3 linked regions of the Homo sapiens genome follow. The protein of the gene in region 3 interacts with the protein of the main gene of each other region in a pairwise test. Each region holds a gene or a part of one and is shown on either strand. Other genes may lie near its edges.

Region 1 (7,113 bases), on a different chromosome or scaffold from region 3:
CCACCTTCTGCAGCTTCTTCTCCAAGCATGCTAGCTTTCCTTGTATTCCTCCAACATGCCAAGCTCACTTGTAGGCCCAGTTTCTTGCACTAACTGCTCCTTCTGCCTATAGTGCTCGTCCCTCACAAGTATACATGCCTTGGTCACATCTTCTCTGTGTTTTTCTCCAAAGGTCCCTTCATAGACAGGCATTCCTTGACAGTCACTCTCCCACCCCTGTGCTGTTATTCTCCCCATCTGTGCTTGATTCTTCCCTGTAGCACCTGTTATCACCACTTAATAAACTTGTTTACTGTTTGTCTCCACTCACTGGAATGGAAGTTCTATGAGGGCAAGGACTTTCTATTATTCACTGCTATCTCCCCAGTTCACTACTATCTGGGCTCAATAAGTACATAAATAAGTAATAATAAGTTAACTAGTGGATACAGAATTTAAGTGATTTGTCTGTCAGAAAAAAACAAAACAAAACCTGCTATTCAGGTTAGCATTATTTTAAAAATGTAGCAATGTTAAGATACTCTTGTGATGTTATCCATGTCCTAAAGATGAAAAGTTTATGAACAAATTTTGGAGAATTCTAGCACAGGTTTAAAAGAATGAAGCTTAAGAGAAATTAAATACTTAATGACATTAATACACCAGTACTTTTACAGCCATGACTTAACGGAAATGGCCAATTAAGATTGTGCGATAAATATTTTGCCATCAGGGAAGGGTTAGATAAAATTTTTTTTTTTAAACCTTCTATTAGGAAAAGGAATCATTCTGACCAATAATTTTTCCAAATTATCTAAAAGTTGGAAAGCCATATAGGGAGTTTGTGTTGTGTATAAAAGGTGTTATAAAGACCTTGAAAAGGGCCTTTCAGCAAATCTTGAACTCAGCCATGAGGAAAAATCCTCCCAGTGTACTTGCGTGCTAGAAACAGGTAACACAGACCTTGAAGTTGGCCATTTAGAGACTGGCCCTTCAGGCAAGTAGAGAAACTGCTTTTTAAAAACATCTTTACCTTCCAATCAACTGGGGTGGCAACCCTTTTTTCTGCTGTCAGCTGGAGAGAGATGACTACCCTGAGAATCTCATCAAAGTTCCTGCCAGTGGTAGCTGGGTAGAGGATAGACAGCTTCAGCTTCTTATCAGGACCAAAAACAAACACCTGTAAAGCACAGAGGGGCATAAATAGGAAGAGTTCTTTGAGTGTTATTAAAGCCACTTAGAAAGCTCTGCAGTCATTAATAATGTTCAAGGGTATAAAAACAAGACAAAAACAAAGCATCTAGAAGGATACACCAACTGCTAATGTGGATGGCTGGAATACAGATAATTTTCTTCTCCCTGTTATTTTCTAAACGTAGAAGGGAATTCTATTTGGTTCTGGCTTTCCCAGTAAGAAAAACTGATATGCAAATTTAATCGAGGGAAAGGCTGTGTCAATTGGGGATGACTATCATAAAAATAATACTAATGGGAGTTGATATTGTTCCTTGAATAGTTGTGCATTTATTCAGATGAGGGATTGGGTTTGTTTTCTAGTGGGCGGAGGACAGAACAAATAAAAATTTAAAACAGAGCTGCCTTATGAAGAAGGATATGGCCCATCACTTTAAAGACAGGGCGGTCAGGAGAGCAGTCAGGAGAGCTATGAAAAGGTTTCTCAATTCTGGAAGACATTTTAGGATAAACAACTTTTTTTTTGTAGATTTCCATGAACTATGAATAAAGCAGTTGGAAAATTTAGCTGAAAATTGCATCAGCATTACAGATAATCAGTGATATTGTCGCCAATACACAGTTATTTCATAATCGTAGATATTCCCCTATCTCCTCTAGCTGGTACCAGCATTTACACGGACATACAGCCTGATCAGTTAAGCTAACTACAAAATGAATTTGTATGACCTACCACACGAGCTGTCACAGGCATGCCCTTTTCATCCTTCTCTGCTGGATCCAGCATGCCCAACAGGATGGCAAGCTCCCGATTCCTATCATCGATGATGGGAAAAGGTAACTTTTCTGTGGGCTCTTCACAATTGTAAGCATTGATATCCTGAAACACAAGTAAAAGGGGAAAGAGGAATCTAAACCCAACACATGCTCTGAATTTCATCAGTTAACAGCCATCACCTTGCAAGACAGGAAAGAGGACCAAATCACAGTAATTTTCTTTAAGCAATTTTAATTTTAAAAAGTGAGTAGATGAACACTCTTCATTCCAATTATTGCCAGGAATAACAGCAGAGTACAGTACTTAGGTTGTAATCATGGACCAAAGCTGTTTTCATGCCCAGTTCTCTTAAATTCAGCATGCTTTTACTGCTATGAGAAAATAGCAGCAACCCCTTTAAAATTGCAATAATTTAGTTAGATCCAAATACAAGGTACCTCTGGGTACCCAAATACTGTAAAAATCATCAGATAACAATAGGTTTGTTAAATCCATCACATCTAGAAATAATGCCATATGTAAAGAAAATCTTATAGATCTGGTCCCTACCTCATAAAGCACCCTGACTCAGATGCTAAGTTACAAGACAAATAAGAAATGACCAAAAAAAAAAAAAACAAATCACAAAACAAAGCAAACACAAGAATGGAGAGTTGAATATATACTTGAAGGACAAGTCAAAAATAAATGGGTGAAGAGGCAGAAGTAAACCTAAACTAGGGTGAAATTCAAAGAGAAAACAAAGCATTTCAAGTCTGAACTAAAGAAAAATGATACACTTCCCTCCTTCCCTAGTAAAACTTTATTCATCCATTTATTTCTACTTTTCCTATCCCTGGAAGCTTTTGGAGAAAAAAAAAATCTAGTTTTGTTATTTGATTAAGCATTGATATAGCACTTAAGGTGGGCTAAGCATTATGGTAAATACATGTGGAATACAGATGAGTAAGACACGGCTCCTCCCTTCAAAGGAACTTCTCATTTGGTTAGAGATGATTCCAGTATGAAGCAGCAGCAAATGCAAGACTAATGTTAAATGGTGGATGGTAAATACTGAAGTATACGAACACTCCCATTTGTAGGACTCCAAAAGTTACAAAAGGCTTCAAGAAAAGAACAGGACTTCTATCTAGGCCCTTGAAGGATGGGTAAGATTTTTCACAGAGAAAAGAAAGGCATTCTAGGAATCAGGAACTATATATATATATGCACACACACATATATATATGTGTATATATATTATATACGTGTGCATATGTATATATATGTATGTGTGTGTGTGTGTATATATATAAATATATATATATATAAATATATATATCTAATTTTTTTTTTTTTTTTTTTTTGAGACAGAGTCTTGCTGTCGCCCAGGCTGGAGTGCACTGGTGCGAACTTGGCTCACCGCAACCTTGGCTCACTGCAACCTCCGCCTCCCAGGTTCAAGCAATTCTCTGCCTCAGCCTCCTGAATAGCTGGGATTACAGGCACCCGCCACCACACCGGCTAATTTTTTTTTGTATTTTTAGTAGAAACGGGGTTTCGCCATCTTGGCCAGGCTGGCCTTGAACTCCTAACCTTGTGATCCACCTGCCTCAGCCTCCCAGAGTGTTGGGATTACAGGCGAGAGCCACTGTGCCCGGCCAGGAACGATATTAATGAAACATGTGGGCAACTCTGTACATAAACTATTGATAGGAGAGTGAGGAACTTAGTTGGATAGAGTTTAGCAAGTAATGGAAAAGAGGATTTAAAATTGGAATAACGTCTATTGTGTGTAGGCTTGAAAGTAAAACAGGGGCTTGATGGCATAGCAGATACAAAACCATTGTGGATTTCTCAACGGAGATGTGACAAATGTGGCATTAATGAGCTCTGAAGTGGATAACAACAAATTCTTTTTATTTATTTATTTTTTTGAGGTGGAGTCTCTGTTGCCCAGGCTGGAGTGCAGTGGCGCGATCTCAGCTCACTGCAGCCTCCACCTCTCGGGTTCAAGCCATTCTCCTGCCTCAGGCTCCCGGATGATAACAAATTGTAACATTCCTTCATTTTATTATCTTAACTTTCTGTTGTCACTGGCTGCTTATGAAGTCACCAGAGCTAAATAATAATTAATATAGTCTCATGCTAGAGGCAGATTATTATATAATCAGTTGTTTGTCAAAGTTGCGGCACTGCTTCTGATAGTTCAGACTTTTTTCCTATTCAATGTAATCACAATTCTGAAAACTTCTAAGGCAGAAGCTCAGCAGGTAAAATAAACCTGAGTATGCGTCTGTCCTTTAAAAGGTATTATATAATGGGCTATAACCGCTTCCTTTGGCAATATGTCACTTTAATTATTGCTGTGCACTAATTCTCTACTCTGCCACTTGCATCATGGGCATTAGATTACACCCATGAACACCAAAGAACCTATCCTAAATTATTTGGCTTTATTCTATCCTAAATTAGGCTAAATCCTACTCTTTATCATCTTGCATTAAAAAGAACATTGATTTGAGGTTGAAATCTCATTGCCATTGGGCAGTCTTGGGCAAGTCCCTCCAACTCTCTGAGTGAAAAAAGTATGTTCAACTGCAAAAACGAAAATGAAAAATGATAGCAAAAACTACAGTTACCACTCACTGAGAAGTGTAAGGAATGAAAAAAAATTCTACTTCAAGACAGATAACTGCCCTTCTTTTTTCTCCTACACATGATTCTTCTAGTCTCAGATATTTAGGATTAACTGGCATTAACTGCTATAGGATGCAGCCACAGACCCCTAACTCACAAGTCAATACATCTTTTATTCAACTGCACGTTTGACATAGTTTCTAGTATACATCCCTCAAAAAGTAGTTATCATTATTACTTAACAGCACAGTGCAGTCAAGTTCTTAAAATGTTTTCAAGGTAAATTCAGACCACCAAATTTACTGTTCAAGTAAATTCTTTTGCTAGAAGTAGGTATTTCCTTCAGTTAATTCATTCAACAAATATTGACTGATCGCCTAGGATATACTGAGTAGTGAGCATTGTTCCAGCAGTGCACTAAACAGGAGTCTCTGTTCCTGCTGAGTTTATACTCTACTAGGAAGAAACAAACAAACTAAATAGGTAGTATGCAGAGTGCTGAGGAGAAGGGGATGGTGAACGTGAAAAGGAGTTATAATTTTAGATAATGAGGACAAGAAAGGCTTTGATGAAATGTCCTGTGAGTTGAGACCCAAAAGAGGTGAGGGTAAGTCACACAGATCCCTGGGAAGTGAGTCTTCTATCTATGATACAGGACATATTTTGAAGGTAGAGCTGACAAGTTTGAGGATAAATCAGATGTATGATGTGAAAAAACATGAAGAATTCAGAATGGCTCCTGGATTTGGGGTGTGAACAACTATAAAAATGTAGTTGCCATTAGCTTAGATGAGTAAAACTCTGGATCTAAGAATGAGGCCTAGTTAGACATGCTAGGTTTGAGATGACTGGACATCCCAGGAGAGATGCTAGGTAGGCAGTGGTTATATGAACCTGGAAGAGTCTGGCATAGAGATGAAAATTTGAGAATCACAGCACATAGATGGTATTTAAAGGTGAGTGGATGAGCTCACCAAGGGAAAGAGTGCAGACAGAAAAGAGATGAGGTCCAAGAAATAAGTTCAGGGTAACTTCAGCATAAATTAGGAGTTGGGAGATGAAGAATCAGTGAGCAGGAACAGCTAGAATGTGGTGTCCTGGAAGTCAAGAAAGGAAAAAGTTTCAGGAGGTACAGTGATCAGCTGGGTTGAATGCTGCTGGCAGGCCAAGAGGAGGGCTGAGAATTGACTGACCAATGGATTTAGCAATGTGATCACTGTGTGGTTCAACTGAAATTTTCAAATAATTAGTGAACTTTGAACCTAAGGCTTACTTGTACCTTAACCTCAAAACCAAGTACTCCATAATTTATAACTTGACCTATAATCTCAGGCTCAAAGCACATGCCAATTGATACTAACCTTGCTCCAGGCAAGATGGTCCTCAACACTGTCTATTGAAAGGGCAATCAACTTAACATTCCTCTTGGCAAATTCTGGTGCCAGCTTTGCAGCTCTGCCAAGCTCTGTGGTGCACACTGGGGTAAAGTCCCGAGGGTGGGAGAAGAGAATGCCCCATCTGAAAGGAAGAAAAACAAGGTCACAATTGAATTAAGAGTTATCACCAACATCACAGAGAATGAAAAGTCACAACTTCTGGATCAAAAACAGGCTTTCTTTTTTAAATGAATGCTTATGATGATATTTACTTTTAAGCTTTTCTGTTGAGGAGTGCTTTTCAATCTACTTACCTCCAGAGAAGCCTATGCTTATAGCCCAATTCAATCAAAGACATGAAATTCAAGATGACACATATTTAAAAAGACTAATGTTAAGGTGTTGCCTCCTTTAATAATTATGGTGCCACCCTGACTCCTTTTTGGCTAATACAATCTGTGCTATTCAAGCCAAGTAGTTCACTGAAAACACTTAATTATTTCTTCTTATCCTTTTCTACATTTTTTTCTAGCATAGACCCTGACATTCAGCTCCAATAATGGATGTCCCAGTATGCCCTGAATCCAAACAAATGCCTGACTGCAATAATAAACAAATTATGTAATCTGAAATAAATAGGTTTCTATCTTCTATTTATATGTAAAAATTAAAGTTGACACTTGGCTTCTCTGAAGCAAGTGGATATAAAATCTTTTGTAAAACCACTTTACTGATCTTACCTGCCAAACATGACACCCAATATTTATACTCTGACAAAACAATAGCACCTTCACAGTTTTACCTATCTCTTCATTTGCAGTTTCTTTTTCTTCTTTCTTCAGACCAAGCAGGTAGAATTTTGATAGCCTGCAATGTAGATTTCTACAACAGCAAATTCTTAGGTAAATACTAATATCTAAGTCATCATTGTCTAAGATTTTATAATTTTGAGCACATTTCAAGCTGTCACGAAGAAAGCTGAAGTACCATTTCCTTCTTCTTGGCAACAGAAACTACTCTTTCAACTGAAAAGGAAAATTTAACACTCAGTTCTCCACATCCCCATCAACTTAAACCATCCTAAACCAGATGATTTAGGCAGGATCCTAAACTAGTAGATAACTAAATCTAGCCTAGATGCCAAGTTGACCTTTCTGAAGTTTCCCT
Region 2 (7,113 bases), on a different chromosome or scaffold from region 3:
CACCTTAGCACAGAATTGAGAATATTGCTAAAAGGGCTTGTCCTCATTAATAGTACCTAAAAATTAATGTCATATTTGGCTATATCTTAAATTTTGGGTATCTCAAAAAAAACCTTTTTTTTTTTTTCCCCTGAGATGGAGTCTTGCTCTGTCACCTAGGCTGGAATACAGTGGTGTGATCTTGGCTCACTGTAACCTCCACCTCCTGGGTTCAAGCGATTCTCCTGCCTCAGCCTCCCAGTAGCTGGGATTACAGGTGCCCACCACCATGTCCAGCTAATTTTTGTATTTTTAGCAGAGATGGGGTTTCACCATGTTGGCCAGGCTGGTCTCGAACTCCTGACCTCCTGGAGTGATCCACCCACCTCGGCCTCCCAAAGTGCTGGGATTACAGGCATGACCCACTGCACCCAGTCTCTCAAAGAAAATCTTTTAATATTTTTATGGTTACATTAAAAATAGAACTGAAAATTAAATTTAGAAGCTAGACTTTTATAGACAAGAAGCACCCATTATGTAACAATAAAAACCTACTTAAGGAATTTTGGATTATCTCTTTATATGACCACTAATTGGTCATTCTGAGGTGGAAAATTACTTTTTACGTTTCTGAATGATGCAACTAGGTCAGTTTTATAGTTTTATCAGACAAAAACCACCTACAAAAATAGATTGGAATGCTGCTTTAAGAAGGGTAGTATTTTTAAAAGTTTACTAGACAAAATATGAGAAATAAAGGGCACACTGATAGATTTAGTAAAAAAATTTGTTGGGATGACAAAATGGCAAGAAATAGCTTCTAGTTATAAAGAATTTTAACAAAATATAATTATCTATAAGATTATTCCAGTTCCCTTTTAAATAAGATTTGAAAAGTCTGCAGAAGACACAGATTCCTAACAAGTATGTTGGATAAGCACTGCAAATTAAAACAGTTGACGTCTTATCTTTTTAACAACCGAGAAGTATTTTATGAAAACCTCTAGTTTTCTTGTGTCTCCTATGACATAAGAAACAGAATTAAATATGAATGATAAAAGACTGTTGTATTACTTACCATTTCCATTCTTATGATCCAGCAGCAAAATTAAAAATAAATATGTAAATAAAACTTGTAATGTTATTTAATAATCCTTCATATTTAAATAGCCTTCCCTTTAAAGTAACTTCACAAATAATTAGCAGATGTGTTTTCTCATACATATGAATGACCAGTATCACACATAAAAAACACCTCTGTTTTCCCTTTAAGTCACTAATAACTGACTTTGTAGTTACTCTTTTATAGTGGAGGTGTAGCTTAAAACCATGATTTCTCTCTGGATTTGCCACCAATAATCCAGGGCAGATTCTACTAACTAAATCTCAGAGAATATTTCTAGCTCAGTAGGCTCTGAAGCCAAAAGTATAGGACTTCAAATCTAAGTCCTTTGTTGATACCTCAAAGATTCAAAATTAGTTCATGGTTGCCACTAATGCTGAGTATAAGAATTACCTGGGTCTGATTTTAAATTAAGGAGTTTAGGGACATAGACCAGGAATCAACAAACTTCTTTTGAAAAGGGCCAAATAGCAACTATTTTTTATCTCTGTTACAACTACTCAACTTTACCATTGCAGTGTGAAAGCAGCCATAGGCAATGTGTAAATGATTGTGTATGGCTGAGTTCCAAAAAAAACCTTTATTTAAAAAAACAAGGCCAGGCTCCTGGCCACACCTATAACCCCCAGCACTTTGGGAGGCCAAGGCAGGCAGATCACTTGAGCCCAGGAGTTTGAGACCAGCCTGGGCAACATGGTAAAACTTCGTCTTTACAAAAATACACAAAAAGTAACTGAGTATGGTGGCTTGTGACTGTAGTCCCAGCTACTCAGGAGGATCATTTGAGCCCAGGAGGTTGAGGCTGCAGCAAGCCAAGATGGTGCTACTGCCCTCCTGCCTGGGCGACAAAGCGAGACCTTGTCTCAAAAAGTAAATATATAAATAAAGAAGTAAAAATAAAAAATAAGACAGTGACCTCTGGGACATAGTTTGTGAACCCATGATATAATTAAACTCAATAAGTTTTGTAGAAGTATAAAGTGGGCCTTTAGAGAAAGAAAAAAAGTAAGAAGCAGAAAGAGTTATGAGACTATGTTGTGATAAGTAATTCTTCAAATTAAAAGAATTTCGACTTAATTTTTTTGCTATTTGTAACCTGATGTGCTTTATTACATATCTGAGTTTTTTCCAAGTTAAAATAGATTTAAAAAAGAAATAAACTTTCCTTATAGTGCAAATAGGCTAAAAAAAATTGAGTTAAACTTAATGGGAGAAAGCTCAACCTCGTGGCAAACACAGGCTAAAATATGCTGAACTGGCTTACACCAAGAATTTTTATTTCCAGTATAAGAAAATCTATATTTAGCTTATACAAATTATTTTTGTATTTAAAAAATAAAGTGATTACTTACTATCATAGGAAGTTTACGACTATCCAGATACAGACTCGTGTAGCCAACATAAAGCAGAAGGGCAGCAATGCAGTACAGGAACACAAAGACTGCAAAGGTAACATAGAATTGTGCAGAAGAAGAGTAATCGCCTATGAGGACGTAATCTTTCCAATTTACATCACATATGTTTACACCTGGAGGTGGCTGAAATGATGCCTCATTCAACCTATTAAAATAAATGTATGAATTATTGGACTTTCCCAACAGAGACAGAAACATTTAAGCAAAACAATGAGTGACACTTCAAAAAATACTCCCCAAATATATTAAAAACATTCCTTTGGGGAAAAAAGTAAAATTCAAATATTATATTTAAGTAAACTGAAATTTTCATAATAAATGTATATGTTATACCTGGTATTAGTTTATGATACATTGAATATAGACTGAATTAAATACTTTCATACCCAGATACTATCTTCCTGCAGTAAACAATTAGGTAGGAGAGATTATACCAAATGGTTTATACTTTGAGACATCATATTTCATTCTGTGTGGCAGAGTATGTGTGACTAGCCCCAAGAGAGCCAATCACAACAATGATTCACATTTTTAACCCTGGATCAATAGTTGCTAACAATAAATATTGCCTTTCATTTTTCCCAACCATAAATTGTAAAAAACTTGTCACTAAAGATGCTGTAACAGTCCCTTATGTGAGAAGTGTCTAGGAGAAAGGATACAAGATAGAGAGGCTTTGATGATTAACCACTTATTATCTGACTTATCTTTAATATGGGGATTTTATTTAATCATCAAAACAGCCTTACAAGATAATACTTCCAATTACTGGACCAAAAAATTGAGTCTTGGGTGAAGTAAGTAAAATTAGTAAGTGAAAGAAGATTCCCACCCTGGCTTAAACACAGGACATATTCAATAAACTTTTCAATGGATACTGATGTCAAACAAGACTTCACAGATGAAATACTCATTTTACTTTAAGAAAGTGTGGCTTTATGCTAATGAATGAAATATGGAATCTCTTTATATACATATGTCTTAAAACTATATAAAGACATTAATATTCAGCAATTACAAAAAACACTGAGAATCTGGATTTTTCTAAGTTATGTTTCCTTCTACATTAGGGCTTCTTATACTAAGGTGATAGAACAATCTCTAGTTTGCTTTATTTTTACATTTCCAATCCTCTGTTAGAATAAAATTATCAAGGCAACATCACATTGTTATAAAAGTTTCTAAATGCTTACTCTCACTTTCTGTACTATTTTGTCACAGATCAGGAGATGTTTTTAGACAGGCATGGGTCTGTGTACCACAGTTTGGGAGGTAATGATCACTTACAAATGAGCATACAGTCTAAAATTTTCTACCCCCCACAATCAATAAATTGCTGGAAATCTTAATGACTCACTGTGAAAGTAAAAAGAGTTGTGAAACCATTAAAATAAATATAACTCACCTGAATGGATAACCAAAAGTAGCTGTAACAGTTTTATTCTCAGTAACTGCAGGAGGACAATTCACTTGAATTTCTGTTTGGCCCTTAAAACCTCCACAGGTGGCAAAAGCAAAGATAGAAGCAATCTACACAAAGTAAGATGAAAAAAGACAAAAGAAAAAAAAGATAAGCAATACTACAACCAAAACAAGGGTCACTAAAACTGTAAGCACACTGATTATTAAAAATTGGCTAACATTCTAGAAATTCTTTTTTTGAGACAGGGTTTCTGTCGCCCAGACTGGAGTACACTGGCACGATCAGGGCTCACTGCAGCCTTGGCCTCCCAGGCTCAAGTGATCCTCCCACCTCAGTCCCCCAAGCAGCTGGATCACAGGTGTGCATCACCACACCTGGCTAATTTTTCTTTGAATTTTAGTAGAGATGAGGCCTCGCTATGTTGCTCAGATTGGGCTTGAACTCCTGAACTCAAGCAATCCTCCCATCTTGGCCTCCCAAAATGCTGGGATTACAGGTGTGAGTCACTGTGCCCAGCCCCCACTACCCTTTTTTAAAGAGATGAGTCTCACTCTGTTGTATAGACTCAAGTGTAGTGGCACAATCATAGCTTACTGCAGCCCTGAACTCTCAAGTGATCCTCCCAAGTAGCTGGGACTAAGGAGTGTGCCACCATGCCTGGCTACATTCTAGAAATTCTTAAACACAAACTAAGATGGTGAAAGACATTAAAACATTCATTTGCAAACCTCGACAAATGTGATTTTATTTTCCCCGGAGTATAATATAGAAATAAATGTACCAGCCCATATGACAATTCATTTGCTCATACTTTAGTGTATCCACTAAGTATTAGTATGAAATATAGAGGGAGACTCATTTATTAGTATAAAATCAAAAGGGGTGAATTGGAGGTATTTTTATTTGGAACACAAGTTACCAGTAATTTGTAAAGCCAAGAGGTTGTCAGCAGAGAAGAGACACTATTTCATGAGCCTGTTAAACCTCCCTTGTGGGTATTTCCAGGTCTCAAAAAGTTGTTGGAAACTTATTTTCCTAATCATGTATATGCTTAAAAAAATGAATGGTGTTCTCTCAAATACCATCTAAAACACAAAAAACCTAGAAGCAACCTAAATGTTGACAGGGAATCAAACTATAATTCATCCATTCATTCATTCATGCAATGAAACATTATATAGCTGTTGGAAATTAACAACATAGAATGTTGGAGATTAACAACATAGAAAGTGTTCATTACATACAAAGTAGATTTAAACAACAAAAACTAGAAAGGTTATGCATCAAAATTTTAACACTGGTCACCTCTCAAAGGAAGATAAATAATTCCTTTTTATTTTTGTACTTGTGAATTTTCTACAAAACAACACAAGTAAGCAAAAAATTCCAGATGCGCTGTTAAAGTCCAGGAGCTCAATCTTTCAGCAAGTGGTGATGGCTCTATTTTCAAAATACATTTGCAATCTGACCACTTGTACTGCCTCCTGATCTGAACTACCATCACCTTTTGCCTGAATTTTGCACTAACAGCCTTCTAAATGATCTCTCTGCTTCTGCCCTTGCCCCAGCTTCAGTCTGTTATCAACACAACAGCCAAGACAATCTTTTAAAAATGTAAGGCAGAAAATGTTATCCTTTGCTCAAAACCCTCCAATGGCTTTTGAGCTCTCTATGAATAAAAACCAAAGTTCATATAAAGGCCTGCAAGATCCTTTCTTCCCTTATATTTCTGACCTCATGTTGCTACTTTTTCCTTTACCTAATCTGTATACACAAACTGCTTTCCATGCGATACCTTTAATGACACGGGATAAACTCTTCCTTCAGGACCTTTGCACTGGCTATTTCCTCTGCCTGGAATACATGCTTCACTCCCTCACTTCCATAGCTTCCTGTTCCAGTATGACCTTCTCAGAGAGACCTTCCCCTCACCACACTATATCAAATAACAGCACTCCTACCCCGCACTACCTATTCCCTCTACTCTATTTCTGCTCTGTTCTAATTACCACTGCTTGACACAGTACTTAATTTGTCTGTCTTTCCCTAGAATAGAAACTTGAAGAGGTCAGGGGCTTCGTTTTGTTCAAGGTCACACACACTCAGCAACTGGTAGTAGATAATATTCAATGCAGATTTGATATCAAATATTCACTGTGGAACACTTGACATAATGCTTCCCATGGATTATTCCAGGGCCTTGAATCTTGTAGGCCATAATCCACATTATAGTAATTGTCAAGGGTTTGTTTTTTCCCATCCGCCCCCCCCCCCCCCCCCCCCCCCCCCCCCACAAAAAAGATACATGAAAAGAATCTGGTTACAGATAGGAAGAGTCTGAGGTAATGTCCAGCACATAGTTTGGGGTCTTAACTGTTAAGAGGTGATCCCCAGTTTTTACAGGATTTCAAAATATGTAAAAGTAACTTTCCTTGGAAAATGTGTCATGAAATCATTTTTCATTATTTGTACTAAATAATGTTTTATGTTAAAAAAGAAGGTAAAGATGGAAGAATCAATACTCTCTCAGAATAAATATGCATGAATACACAGAGTGAAAAGGCCAGAAAATGAGTCCTGAGCATATACCCACGTTTAAATTAAAAAAAAAAAAAAAGAAAAGAAATGAGATACACAAATTGAACCAATGGAGCAGAATAAAAAGGCCAGGAATAGACTAGTGTGTATAAGACAAATTGTATCTAACAGAGTTGATTTGTAGATCACGGAGGAAAGGAATGTGGTGGTTTTAAAGATATGCCCACAAACTCTTTGATACAACTCCCATCAAGAGATGGAGCCTGATTTCCCTTCCCTTGAGTGTCAACTAAATGTAGTGACTTGCTTCTACAGAATAGAATATGGTACTGTAGAAGAAATGGGATGTCTTTTCTGAGACTCAGTTATAAAAAGATTACAACTTTTTTTTTTTTTTGAGACACAGTCTCGCTCTGTCACCCAGGCTGGAGTGCAATGGTGCAATCTTGGCTCACTGCAACCTCCACCTCCCAGATTCAAGGAATTCTCCTTCCTCAGCCTCCTGAGTAGCAGGGGTAATTACAGGTGCCTGCCACCATGCCCGGCTAATTTTTGTATTTTCGGTAGAGACGGGGTTTCACCATGTTGGTAAGGCCAGTCTCGAGCTCCTGACCTCCGGTGATCCACCCGCCTTG
Region 3 (7,113 bases):
GGAAATCCTTCTTTGTTGCTATACCATTCCTTACTTTTATATAGATTGGGTTATTCATTCAACAAGTATTCATTAAGCACCTATGCTATGCTGGGCACTGTGTAGAGCATGAAAGGTATGTACACTGATGGTATGTTCCTGTCCTCAGGGAACTTATAGTCTAGTGGACAGATGAAGGGCAGATGCAGGACGGCAGGTGGTATGTTTTCTGCTCTGAAGCACAGTGTGGTGGAGCGGGAAGAGTGGCTCTGGGAACAGACTGCATGGGATCCAGTCCCCATTGTGGGCATTTCCACTAAGGAATTACTAAGCAGTGGCCACTTCTTATCTGTCATACTTAATTCAGTAATTCCTTAGTTTTCTTTAAAATGGAGATCAAGATTTACCGCCACCATCCCACGCCCGGAAGGGCTCCTCATGCTCTCTGCAGCATGGTGCTTCTGTCGCTTACAGAACAACTTGCCTTTGATGATTTTCAAGAGAGTTGTGCTGTGAGGTGGCAAAAGTATCCAGGCAGCAGGATGCCAGTGCCTCAAGGAAAAAATGGTCCTTTTCGGCAATGTGTTCGGTACTGGGGGCTTGGCCCTTGTGTATTACCGCATACAAAAGACTTTTTCCAGGGCTTTGTATTACCAGTTGGCATTGGAGCAGGTGCATAGCCATCCCAAGGCACAGGGAGCTCTGGGCCCTCTTCTCAACATTCACTGTCTCAAACTCACCAAGCACAACTTTGTGGACATTGCTGATGCCAAGTTGAAGATTCCTAGCTCTGGATCCAAGTCAGAGGGCCATCTCCATGTCAGCTCATCCAGAAGTGCCCCTTTCAGAGGTGGCACCTTGATGAGGTCTTCCTAGAGCCCAAGGATGGCCAGCAGATTCCCTTGTTCAAGCTCAGTGGGGAGAATGGTGAAGAAGTGAAAAAGGAGTAGAAACGATCCAAAAGACCCAGCTTTCTTCTAGTCTGGCCTTCCCTTATCTCCACCATGTGCCCACCAGGGGTGATGGCCCATCTGAGTGACAGACACTCCCGTAAGCTAATTTTCCAGCCACCAGTGGAATGATTGTATGTGCTGGCATATGGTAATTTTGGTATAATTCTAACTTGGGCACAACGAATGCTATTGTCATTTTTAAACTGAATCAGAAAGAAACTCTTATTATAAGATAATTTATGTGAAAGTTCTTTGTTTAAGAAAGCACATGATAAAAGGAATCAGAATTAAGAAAACATTCATTGATTTAAAAAACAAATAAATAGGCCGGGCGCGGTGGCTCACGCCTGTAACCCCAGTACCTTGGGAGGCTGAGGCGGGTGGATCACCTGAGGTCAGGAGTTCAAGACCAGCCTGGCCAACATGATGAAGCCCCGTCTCTACAAAAATACAAAAATTAGCTGGGCATGATGGCGAGTGCCTGTAATCTCAGCTGTTCGGGAGGCTGAGGCAGGAGAATCGCTTGAATCCAGGAAGCAGAGGTTGCAGTGAACCAAGGTCACGCCACTGCACTCCAGCCTGGGCAACAGAGAGCGACTCCATCTCACACGCACACACAAATAAAATAAAATTAAATAAATAAAATGGAGATCAAGACTAGCTACATAATTTGTGAAATGTACAAAATGAAAATGCAGGGCCCTTGTTTGAACAGTATTAAGAATTTCGGCCAGACACAGTGGCTCACACCTGTAATCCTAGCACTTTGGGAGGCCAAGGTGGGTGGATCATCTGAGCTCAGGAGTTCGAGACCAGCCTGGGCAACATGGTGAAACCCCATCTCTACTAAAAATACAAAAAATTAGCCAGGCGTGGTGCCATGTGCCTGTAATCCCAACTACTCGGGAGGCTGAGACAGGAGAGTTGCTTGAACCCAGGAGGCGGAGGTTGCAGTGAACCAAGATCACGCCATTGCACTCAAGAGTGGGCGACAGAGCGAGACCCTATCTCAAAAAAAAAGAATTTCAAGATGAGGCTAGGCGCGGTGGCGCCTGTAATCCCAGCACTTTGGGAGGCCGAGGCAGATGAATAGCTTGAGCTCAGGAGTTTGACACCAGCCTGGGCAACATGGTGAAACCTCATCTCTACCAAAAAAAAAAATTAAAATTAGCCATGCATGGTGGCTCATGCCTGTGGTCCCAGCTGCTCGGGAGGCTGAGGTGGGAGGATTGCTTGAGCTCGGGAGGCAGAGGTTGAAGTGAGTCGAGATCATATCATATACTCCAGCATGAGACCCTATCTCAAAAAAAAAAAAAAAGAATTTCAAGATGAGACAGCAGAGCATTAAGCCAATCACACACTCTTTTATTCTAAGTGTGGGGCCCTCTGCGACTGCATAGATCACACACATGCCCAGGAAGCTGGCCCTGATGGGGATGATCATAGTACCTTCTACTAGTACCCTACTAATGAAAGCGTTGTTAGGAAGATGAAATTGGCTAAAGTGCCAACAATAGTGCCTGAATTAAACACTCAATATTAGCTGTTATTATTATTTGTATACTAATTATTCTCATCATTAAACAAAACAAATTGTCAGTCAAAAGCTATTTCTTGCTCATCACCATAAGAACTGATGTTCTGCTTTAAAAGCCACATCTTGACTTTGGTTTGGGATTGCATATCAAATCAAAGCGCAGTCCCTGCTTCCAAAGCATAGCCTCCTGGTATAGCAGGAGGATCAAGGCAGCATTTATGGGAGCCAGACCTGTATTTCTCACCACTTCTGACCTCCACACGTCCCAGTCTCCACTTGTTAGCTCCTCTACCCCTATAAACTGCTCCACCATGTGCATTCGCATTTAGTGAGCACCTGTGTTGTGCCAGGCATGGTGCCAAGCTCAGGTGAATAAGGTAGACATGGCCCCCCCCTCATGGGGCTACATTTTAGCAATCCCTTAGCTTAGGTGATGGGTCCGGAGGATGCCAAAGCTGCCTGCCTCATTAGGAACCTCACTGCTCTCTTCTTGTAGCCAGTCTGGTGACCACCTCAGAAGTGATTCTCAAACTTGGCCTGCTCTGGGCTGTGTACCCAAAATCTCTGCCATCACCTCTACCAAAAACCCTTTGCATCCTGTCCTTGCTTACTAGGAAACAATCTTGTAACTAATTGTCTTGCCCACTGGACTGCTAGACTGTGGGCTCCATGTGGGCAGACTTCCTGAACCACGCTGGTATGTCCACTTGGTATGTGCCAGGTACACTTGATGGTAAGTGCACAGCAACTGGTAGTTGAGTAACTAGGTGAGAAATTACACACAGCCTGACGGGGAAGAACAGCACCTTTTGGCAGAGTCTGTCGTTTTGTTTGATGCCCCACAGAAGAGGGTTCTCCTAATGGCCATCACCACAGGGCGTTTGAATTTGCGCGTCTGTCTTCCCCACTTCTCAGTGAGCTCTTTAAAGACTAGCACCAATAAGCGTTCAGCTAGTGTTTGTGCTGCTACTTTTTCATACCTCATCACCTGTCACATGTCTGACATACAGCAGGTGATCAGTAAACACCAAAGTAAATCTCCTGGCCTCTTTTTGTGTCAGTTGTCACTCCACCCCGATTATTCAGTGTGCGATCAGTGTGAGCATATTGTGGTGAGGGGCTTTAGAAAACCCACTCGTGTTTCCTCTCTTGTATTGCCCTTGTATTGCCCTGAAAAGACCAGAAGCCAGATCTTGCTTGATAATGATAGGTTGGACAACCTTCACATAAGTGATTCTGCCTATAAAGTATATCTTTTTTTTTTTTTTTTTTTTTTTTTTGATAGCAGGGTCTCACTGTTGCTGAGGCTGGAGTGCAGTGGAGTGGTCTCCGCTCATTGCATCCTCCGCCTCCCAGGCTCAAGCGATCCTCTCACCTCAAACTCCTGAGTAGCTGAGACTACAGGCACGTTCCACCACGCCGGCTAATTTTTTTAATTTTTTGGTAGAGATAGGGTTTCGCCATGTTGCCCAGGCTGGTCTCAAACTCTTGAGCTCAAGCGATCTACCTGCCTTGGCCTCCCAAAGTGCTAGGATTACAGGTGTGAGCCACTGCACCCAGCCTATATATCTAATATGTATTTTTTTTTCCTGCAAAAAGATTAAAAACACCTCTATTAGAGGAATTTTTTCCCTATTCGGAGTTTAATGAGTTATAAATACTACTTTCCACAACAAGCACTGTGTATTTTATGGGCCCAGCACACTTCCGACGCGTGACTCTGCTAGTTAGCACTGTGTATTTTAAAGTACTTTTATGCTCCTGTTGGGCTTCAGTGTCAGTGTTGAAGGGGCTAGTAATTTTTGAGCTGGCAATACGTTTTTAAAGTTATTCTTTTGAGTAACAAATATTTACTGAATGCTTACCATGGGTAAGCCTATTTTTCAGGCTGTGTGTGAGATTTAAAAGTACACAACTATTCAGCAAACACTTATTGTGCGTTTACCATGTGCAGGTTCTGTGCTAGTGGACAGGAAAGTAAGGTGACAGGAGCCGGACGTGGTGGCTCACACCTGTAATCCTAGCATTTTGGGAGGCCGAGAGGGCCCAAATTGCTTGAGCCCAGGCGTTCAAGACCAGCTTAGGCAACATAGCAAGACCCCCATCTCTACAAAAGAAAAAAAAAAATCTGGGCACGGTGGCATACACTTGTCCTAACTGCTTAGGAGGCTGAGGGGGGTGGATGGCTCGAGCTCAAGAGTTCGAGACTGCAGTGAGCTAGGACCGTGCCACTGCACTCCAACCTAGGTGACAGAGCCAGACCTTGTCTCTTTAAAAAAAAAAAAAAAAAAGCCATAAAGCAGCGAGCTAGGACCGTGCCACTGCACTCCAGCCTAGGTGAGAGCCAGACCTTGTCTCCTTAAAAAAAAAAGAAAAAAAGCCATAAAGATTAGCAAAAGGGAAAGATTCTACCCCTGTAAGAGCTCTCAGTGCCCTCAGTGGGCAGGGAACGTAGTCCTCGGTTATGAACCTGCATCTAAGAGTTATCAAAGTGACCTGGACAGAGTGAGGCAGTGGAGGTAGAGAAGGGCACAGCATTTCATAAAGGAATATCTCTCTGTATTAGTCATCTATTGCTGTGTATCAGATCACCCCCAACTTGGCATCATAAAACAACAGATAGTTCTGAGGGTCAGGAATTTGGGGGTGACTTAGCTGGCTGCTTCTGACCCAGGGTCTTTCATGAGGCTGCAGTCAAGCTGTTGGCCCAGGGCTGAGGTCATCTGGGAGCTTACTCACATGGTGGTTGGCAGGCCTCCTCTCCTCGCTGGCAGTTGGACTGGGGGCCTCAACTCCTCAGCACTTCACCCTCTCCACAGGGCAACCTGAGTGTCCTCAAGACATGGCACCTGGCTTCCCCTAGAGCTAGTGATCCAAGGTGGGGAGGGAGAGAGGGGGAGAGAGAAAAAGAGAGTGGGGGAGACAGGAAAAGGCCATAGTGTCATTTGTAACCCAATCTCAAAAATGACATGGTCATTTCTGCCATATACACATAGACACACAGATCACCTTGGTAAAGTGAGGGTGGTGGAGATTACACGGGATGCAAATACCAGGAGGTGGGTTTCACTGGGGCCATCTTGGAGTCTGGCTGCCACAACCTCTTCCTCTGGCTGGGGAGAGAAGCAATATGCTCAACAGCCTGCCATCTGGTATAGCCACTGCCAGGAAGGATGGTAGGGCTGGAGTGTTTCTAGGCAGGGCTGCTTCCCTCACTAGCATTCCTTTACATGACTGGTAGGATCCCTGCTGATGCTTCAAGGATAAGGCATGTTTGAGATGGTACACAAACCTAAATTCTCTTCACTATGTATAGTGTGCATTGTTAAAATATATACATGATAGCCCGGGCGCGGTGGCTCACGCCTGTAATCCCAGCACTTTGGGAGTCCAAGGCGGGTGGATCACGAGGTCAGGAGATCGAGACTATCCTGGCTAACACGGTGAAACCCCATCTCTACTAAATATACAAAAAATTAGCCGGGTGCGGTGGCGGGCGCCTGTAGTCCCAGCTACTCAGGAGGCTGAGGCAGGAGAATGGCATGAACCTGGGAGGCGGAGCTTGCAGTGAGACGAAATCGTGCCGCTGCACTCCAGCCTGGGCGACAGAGCGAGACTCCGTCTCAAAAATAAATAGATAAATATATATATAACATAATCTGTAATATACTGTATAAATCATGTAGTAAACTGGGCACAGTGGCTCGTGCCTGTAATCCCAACACTATGGGAGGCCGAGGCTGCCAGATCACCTGAGGTCAGGAATTCGAGACCAGCCTGTCCAACATGGTAAAACCCCATCTCTACTAAAAGTACTAAATTAGTTGGGTATAGTGGTGTGAGCCTGTAGTCCCAGCTACTCCGGAGGCTGAGGCAGGAGAATCAATGGAACCTGGAAAGCAGAGGTTACAGTGAGCCGAGATTGCACCATTGCACTCCAGCCTGGGTGACAGAGCGAAACTCTGTCTCAGAATAAAAAAATACATAATATAGTAATTAACTATACTAATTTATAATTAATATAATTATATATAATAATAAAAGAGCATGAAATTTGAGGCTTTTAAAAAAACCTAGGTGAGATATTTTCTAATAATACAATCCCAAAGTTTACATTGTAAAGGTTAAACAGTTTTCAAGCTAAGTCATTTACTGTATCTTACAGGATAATTTATTTGGCTAACATAAATTAGTAACTGAATTTAACATTTTTTTTCAGGTGTGTTTTGATTGTGGTGCCAAAAATCCCAGCTGGGCAAGCATAACCTATGGAGTGTTCCTTTGCATTGATTGCTCAGGGTCCCACCGGTCACTTGGTGTTCACTTGAGTTTTATTCGGTAAGTGAATCTTCTCTCATTGGGGTGAGATTGATTACATTGTTACATGGGTGTTTTTTTCCCTTTTTTCTTTTCTTTTTTTGAGACAGTGTCTTGCCTTGTCGCCTGTCACCTTGGCTGCAGGAGTGCCATCATAGCTCACTGGGCTCAAGTGAACTCAGCCTCTACAAAAAATAAAAAATGTTGTGGTGTGATGATGTATAACTCTAGTCCTAGTTACTCAGGAGGCTGAAGTGGGAGGATCACTTAAGCCCAGGAGTCAAGGCTGCAGTGAACTATGATCTTGCCGCTGCATTCCAGCCTGGG

Evidence for each region.
Region 1: the proteins of ARFGAP3 (region 3) and PRDX6 interact in binary tests that used the Homo sapiens proteins (3 or more experiments, as listed by UniProt).
Region 2: the proteins of ARFGAP3 (region 3) and SYPL1 interact in binary tests that used the Homo sapiens proteins (3 or more experiments, as listed by UniProt).

The regions. Positions count from the first base shown.
Region 1 is NC_000001.11:173,480,301-173,487,413, reverse strand, and holds part of PRDX6 (peroxiredoxin-6), read right to left. Parts: intron 6,089-7,113; coding exon 5,932-6,088; intron 2,054-5,931; coding exon 1,907-2,053; intron 1,160-1,906; coding exon 1,013-1,159; intron 1-1,012. UniProt on the Homo sapiens protein: Thiol-specific peroxidase that catalyzes the reduction of hydrogen peroxide and organic hydroperoxides to water and alcohols, respectively. Can reduce H(2)O(2) and short chain organic, fatty acid, and phospholipid hydroperoxides.
Region 2 is NC_000007.14:106,095,236-106,102,348, forward strand, and holds part of SYPL1 (synaptophysin-like protein 1), read right to left. Parts: intron 4,048-7,113; coding exon 3,923-4,047; intron 2,663-3,922; coding exon 2,455-2,662; intron 1-2,454.
Region 3 is NC_000022.11:42,847,208-42,854,320, reverse strand, and holds part of ARFGAP3 (ADP-ribosylation factor GTPase-activating protein 3), read left to right. Parts: intron 1-6,688; coding exon 6,689-6,807; intron 6,808-7,113.